2 linked regions of the Homo sapiens genome follow. The protein of the gene in region 1 purifies or fractionates together with the protein of each later gene. This does not show direct contact. Each region holds a gene or a part of one and is shown on either strand. Other genes may lie near its edges. The genes, in order: PYROXD2 and SLC31A1.

Evidence for each region.
Region 2: the proteins of PYROXD2 (region 1) and SLC31A1 purify together in Homo sapiens (co-immunoprecipitation; one large-scale study listed by IntAct). This does not show direct contact.

The regions. Positions count from the first base shown.
Region 1 is NC_000010.11:98,397,897-98,401,720, forward strand, and holds part of PYROXD2 (pyridine nucleotide-disulfide oxidoreductase domain-containing protein 2), read right to left. Parts: intron 2,362-3,824; coding exon 2,206-2,361; intron 1-2,205. UniProt on the Homo sapiens protein: Probable oxidoreductase that may play a role as regulator of mitochondrial function.
Region 2 is NC_000009.12:113,259,292-113,262,339, forward strand, and holds part of SLC31A1 (high affinity copper uptake protein 1), read left to right. Parts: intron 1-980; coding exon 981-1,182; 3' UTR 1,183-3,048.

The sequences.
Region 1 (3,824 bases):
TTTTGAGATGGAGTCTTGCTCTGTGACCCAGGCTGGAGGGCAGTGGTGCGATGTCGGCTCACTGCAACCTCTGCCTCCCAGGTTCAAGTGATTCTCCTGCCTCAGCCTCCTGAGTAGCTGGGATTATAGGCACCTGCCACCACGCCCGGCTAATTTTTGTATTTTTAGTAGAGACGGAGTTTCACCATGTTGGCCAGGCTGGTCAAGAACTTCTGACCTCAAGTGATCCGCCTGCCTCGGCCTCTCAAAGTGCTGGGATTACAGGCGTGAGCCGCCACGCTGGCCTGTCCTTCTGTCCTTTCCTATATTATTGGTAGAAGTTAGACCTCTTTGCCTGTATTCTTTTCCGGTCTGTAGGTCGTCTCCCATGCCGTCTCATCACCTGCAGTCACAGAAGCCTGCCTCCTCTCACCCCACAAGCTCCCATGTCAGAATCCACTTTCGAAAGCCTGGTTTCTGACACCCACCCTCCTTTCCCTGGAGGGCACAGGAGCAGTGATAGAAGCCTGTGCTACTGGAGGCCCTACCTGACTCTTCTTAGCCCTGGACTTTGAATTTTGGTCCATCTCTACCCATGGATATACCCATGGCATTTTAATAAGTGTTACATAAAGAAAAGTTCCATGTTAAAATACATTCGAGAAGTCTTATTAAAAATGAAGTTAAACAGCTTTCTCTAAGCAGGCCTTTAATATGACAGCATGGAAAGACAAAACCAGAAATCAAGCTCCTCACTTTCCACGATGGGAAATGGGCACTTGCCTCCAGCGTGTGTGGTCGCTGGCATGTAGGGCCACAGCTAGTGTCCTGCAGGCCCGGGGACCTGGCCTTGTGCAGAATCCCCTCAAGTGCCTCTGAGATGGGTAGGATTTGGACGAGAGGATGCAGGTGGTGGTCTCCAATCTGCTGCACAAAAGAACCACCAAAGAAGCACTTTTAAAAAAGCTAAGCTCCTCAGGCCGGGTGTGGTGGTTCATGCCTGTAATCCTAGCACCTTGGGAGGTGGAGGTGGGAGGATTGCTTGAGCTCAAGAGTTCCAGACCAGCCTGGGCAACATAGTGAGACTTTTGTCTCTACAAAAAAATTAAAAATAACATAGCCGGGCATGGTGGTGAATGCCTGTAATCCCAGCTACTCAGGTGGCTGAGGCAGGAGGATTGCTTGAACCCGGGAGGCAGAGGTTACAGTGAGCCAAGATCGCACCACTGCACTCTAGCCTGGGCAACAGAGTGAGACCCTGTCTCAAAAACAAATAAAATAAAATAACAAAATAAAAGGCTAAGCTCCTCAGGTGATTCTGATCATCAGCCAGGTTTGAAAACTGCTGGTGGAAGAGACATGTAGGCTGTGTGTCTGTGGTTCTCTAAGTTTTACCCAGCAATAGATTAACACAACAAAAGCAATGTACATGGGTTCTATTAACCTAGGTTCTTCTTATAAAAATGTCTCCACTGAGATATGATTTAATGCTACATCTCAGCTAATATCCAGGCTTGGTACAAAATGGCCATTCAAATAATCTTTCTATATCCACAGAACCAACTGTGGCAGGGCCCTTACGGAACTCAGTGGCTCATCTAGACAAGGCCACCCAGCAGGTTCCTAGAATGCAGTTCCAAGGGAAAAAAGTGCATTCTCCATCCGACATGTGTTCATCCTGTCACCAGACCTGCACACCATCATGGACACTTTGTTGCCTTGGGCAGCCAGGAGGGAGCCTTGGGATGCCACACTGAATAAATATTTAGAACTCTCCTGTCCTAAGTTCCTGATTCAGTTTATTTATCCTTAATTTTCTCTGATCTTCCCTCATCCTCCTTTTTGGCTTTCATGTGCTTTAATGTGGACAAACACCTGGAACTCTGCCTGAAAGCTGGAGGGGCATGAAGCACACGCCAGTGTAAGAACGTGCCAGTGCATTTCCTCTTGAACTCAGCAGGCACAGCCCCTCTGACAGTGGCCCCATACTGAACACACGCAGGTGAGCAGGCCTCCCAGTCCACTGGTCTTAATCAGCATCCTCCACCCGCTTCTCTTCGCAGTGCCTGAGATCAAGAGCTGCCACCAACTGGAGCCCTCCTAGGAACGTGGGGTGGCCTGGCGCAGTGTCCATGGCCTTTGAACAATTGTTCTAGGACAATCCAACCAGGCCCATCTCTAGGCTGCTGAGGGAGCAGGAGCTCAGTCACTGGTCGCCTTCCCTACCTGGGCATCCTTCTGGGAGAACTGGGCGATCTGCTTCTGGTTTTCTGCCATGTCTGTGCCCAGCAGAAGGCACCTGGGCACCTTGCTGCCTGCACCCTCTTCCAGCATGGGGGTGAAGGAGTAGGGGTTTCGAAGATGAAGCCTCAGCCCATGTTTCTGCAAAACACAAATAGCATGGGCCACATATTAATGGCTCTGTGGTCTCTGCCCATCATCTTTCTCCGATTGTGTTTGTGTGACCATTTAGGTACCTGTGTGTAGGTTCCCAAGTGTATGGTCCTGGTGTCTGTTTTTTAAATATAAGTTTATAAAAAGCCCTCTTGCCCAAGTACCCTATGGTAGACGATACTGTATCACATCGCAGTACACTATACCATTCTACACCATACCATACATACCACACATACCATGCCATACACCACGCCATGCCATGCCACATCATACCATACCACACTACATCACATCACACCACACACACCATGTCATACCACACCCTACCACACCATGTGATACCATACCATGCCATATCACACCACACTATGCCATGCCATGTCATACCACATCACAGCATGACACACTCATTCCATGCCAGGGACTGTACTAGGGTTTACAATGGTTACCTCACAATAACTTTGTAAGTACAGTCTTGCATCACTTAACGATGGGGATATGTTCTGAGAAATGCATTGCTAGACAATTTCATCACAGTTTGAGCATCACAGAGTGTACCTACACAAAACTAGATCTGATAGCCTACCACACATAGGCTGTGGGGTGTAGCCTGTTGCTGCAAACCTGCACAGAATGTTACTGCACTGAATACTGGAGGCAACTGTAATCCAATGGTATTTGGGTATCTAAACATGTCTAGGCTGGGCACAGTGGCTCGTGACTGTAATCCCAGCACTTTGGGAGTCCAAGGCGGGCAGATCAGCGAGGTCAGGAGTTCGAGACCAGCCTGGCCAATATGGTGAAACCCCGTCTCTAGTAAGAATACAAAAATTAGCCGGGCATGGTGGCACGCACCTGTAGTCCCAACTACTCGGAAGGCTGAGGCAGGAGAATTGCTCGAACCTGGAAGGCAGAGGTTGCAGTGAGGCAAGATTGCCGCCACTGCACTCCAGCCTGGGTGACAAAGCAAGACTCTGTCTCAAAAAAAAAAAAACAAAAAAAAACAAACATAGAAAAGGTACATTAAGAATATGGCATAAAAGGTAAGAAAAATGATACTGTATAGAGCCCTCATGATGAATGGAGCCTACAGGACTGGAAGTTGCTCTGGGCGAGTGAGTGGTGAGTGACTGAAGGCCCAGCACATTGCTGTACACTACTGCACACTTTATAAATATAGTACACGTAGGCTACACTACATTTATTAAAAAATTTTCTTCAGTAGGTTAGCTTACTGCAAACTTTTAAACTTTATAAACATTTTAATTTTTAAAACCTTTTTGATTCTCTTAAAAAGACACTTGGCTTAAAACACAAACATTGTACAGCTATATAAAATATTTTCTTTATATCCTCATTCTATAAGCTTTTTTCTGTTTTTAAAATTTTTTATTTTTATTTTTTACTTTATAACCTTTTTTCGCTAAAAAGTAAAATGCAAACACACA
Region 2 (3,048 bases), on another chromosome or scaffold:
TTTGGATGATTATTGGTTTTTCCCATAGATTGGCAAATGTTTTTTGAGATTGTTTTAATAAAAATGTAAGTCTTAAAACCAAATTGGACCTTAAGAAATCCTATAGACTGATATCCTGCTTTCAAACAAGCAGTGTTATTTATTGTACTGATGAGCTTACTGGGGCCCAGAAGGATTGTGACCTACCTAAGGTGGCACAGGGGATGAGTAGCCAGGTCTCCTTATCCCTAATTAAGTAATTTCTTCTATACTACCCAACCCTCAATTCTATTTTTTTTTCTTTTTTTCTTTCTTTTTTTTTTTTTTTTCTGGAGACAGGGTCTCCCTCTATTGCCCAGGCTGAAGTGCAGTGGCACTATCTTGGCTCACTGCAATCTCTGCCTTCCAGACTCAAGTGATCCTCCCACCTCAGCCTCCTAAGTAGCTGGAACTACAGGCATGAGCCACCACACCCAGCTAATTTTTTTTATTTTTTGTAGAGACAAGGTTTCGCCATGTTGCCCAGGCTGGTCTGAAACTCCTGAGCTCAAGCAATCAGCCCACCTCGGCCTCCCAAAGTGCTGGGATTAAAGGCATTAGCCACCACCCCCAGCCTCTGTTTCTGTTTTTGTAGAATGTAAACTTTGCAAAGGTGGGAAGCCTAAAAATATTCGGGCAGATGAGCGTGAGAGGGTTTACGGCTTCCCTTTCAGGATCTAAGGTGGAGGTAAGTCGGGATTACTCCTCGTCCTTTTCTCCTCCTCCGGAAAAGGGTTCCTTCTACTGGAGGAACCACAGCCATATCTGGCCAATGTTTATAAGCCTGACAGCCCTGTGCTGTTTCATTTCCATGGACCAATCAAAGAACATTCAAGTACCCATGAGTTGCCAGAGTGGCTGTCCAGTTCCAGCTGAGCTCATGGCAAGAACTCTTCCCTCTTTCTCCTGATCTGCAGAACTCCTAGGAGTCCCTGATTGTTGTGTCCCTGTTTACTCTCCAGGCAACAGATGCTGAGCTTTCCTCACCTCCTGCAAACAGTGCTGCACATCATCCAGGTGGTCATAAGCTACTTCCTCATGCTCATCTTCATGACCTACAACGGGTACCTCTGCATTGCAGTAGCAGCAGGGGCCGGTACAGGATACTTCCTCTTCAGCTGGAAGAAGGCAGTGGTAGTGGATATCACAGAGCATTGCCATTGACATCAAACTCTATGGCGTGGCCTTATCGATTGCAGTGGGAAGTTGTTGAAGACTTGAAGACGTGATTCCTGCTCCAATCATCCCTTCTTGCTCCTCTTTGTGCACGTACACACACACACACACACACACACACACACACCCCTGCTCAACAGAGGTTTAGTTTACAGTCTCTGAACTAAAGTAGTAACCTCCCAAATTGTTTTTTCTAATAAGCTGAGATTCCCATTTCTCTTAAGGAGAAGCCACCCATGAGATGTCTTTTCCTTCTCCATCATCTTAGAGCCAAGTTATATGTTCTTGTCTAATCCATGTAGCTTTTTGTTCAATGACTTGATCATCTGCTTCCTTTTTGAATTTTTAACAGATAGTAAGTAAATTTGGTGGTTTTTTCCCCTGGGTCAGTGATGGAAAGGGGTTAACTTCAGCCAGGATTGATGGCAGCTGAGGGAAATTCTTGCCCAACTAAACCCAGAACTCAAACTTAACATTAGAAAATAAGGTCCAGGGCCGGACACAGTGGCCCATGCCTGTAATCCCAGCACTTTGGGGGGCCAAGGCAGGCTGGATCACCTGAGGACAGGAGTTCGAGACCAGTCTGGCCAACATGGGGAAACCCCGTCTCTACTAAAAATACAAAAATTAGCCGGGCATGGTGGTGGGCGCCTGTAATCCCAGCTACTCAGAAGGCTGAGGCAGGAGAATCACTTGAACCTAGGAGGCGGAGGTTGCAGTGAGCCAAGATGGCGCCATTGCACTCCAGCCTGGGTGACAAGAGTGAAACTCCATCTCAAAAAAAAAGAAAAGAAGGTCCAGCTTTTGGATTCAATGAGTGGGAAATACATTGTGCCTTTCTCTAGATGTGATACGTTATACCAAAATCTTTGTAGTGTGCAGAGCGGTGGTTTGAGACTAAATACAGGCTTAGAACTTGCAGAGTGTGTATTCTTGGATGGCTGATGCATCGACTTGCATTCCCACTTAACACTTTGATTAGCATGAACTTGCCAATCAAAAAATGACAATCAATTTGAGAAAATAGAAATAGATATTTTTAAATAAAACCATTCACAGTTTACTTTGTCTTGATACCTTGGTTTGTCCCAGCTGAAGTGAAGCAAGAGAGTTTGAATTAATTTTTCCATTATAATGTTTTCGCATGTCTGCCTCTAAAACTGTGATTTTCAAGCTTTAGCGTGCATCAGAATCACCTGTAGGGCTTGTTAAAACACTAATTGCTGGGCCTCAACCCAAAAGCCCCCAAAGTGGCACTTCTGAGTTCCTGCTGATGTTACAAGGGACCACACTTTTGAGAATCTGTGCTTTAAGCTAAGGAAATATTGCCTGGTGGGTTGGCTGCCTGGTATTGGGCATGGAAATTTGAATTGCTGATTGGTAGATGGTGTGTCTGGACTTAACTCACGTAGTAAATACTGCTGATCAATACCTAATCATTCCACATTTATTGAGCTCCACCTGTGTGTATGTGTACCCAAGCACACATGTGTGAAGGGCTATAGCCAAAGTATTTTTACTAGCCTGTATGAAATCACTAGTCCTTATTTTTAAAGGTCTATGGTTTCTTGGAAGTAGTTTGATTGTTGAGAGAGACCTTTGATCTGCAGTGTAAATCTACCAGTCATGGGCCAGAAGGGCAAAAGCCCAGCTTTCTCTTTGGAAAGACTCAGGCTGTGGTTTGTTGATGGCCAGGTTTTCCTCAGGCTCCAACAACTGTGCTTATACCAAGCAGATCCTCATCCTCCATATAATCATCTTTGTTATTCGTGGGGGTTTAATTACATTACAAGTGGCCAAAACCCCTGTTCTCAGTGAAGAACCACATTGGATTTGTATTCTGTTCAGTTGTAG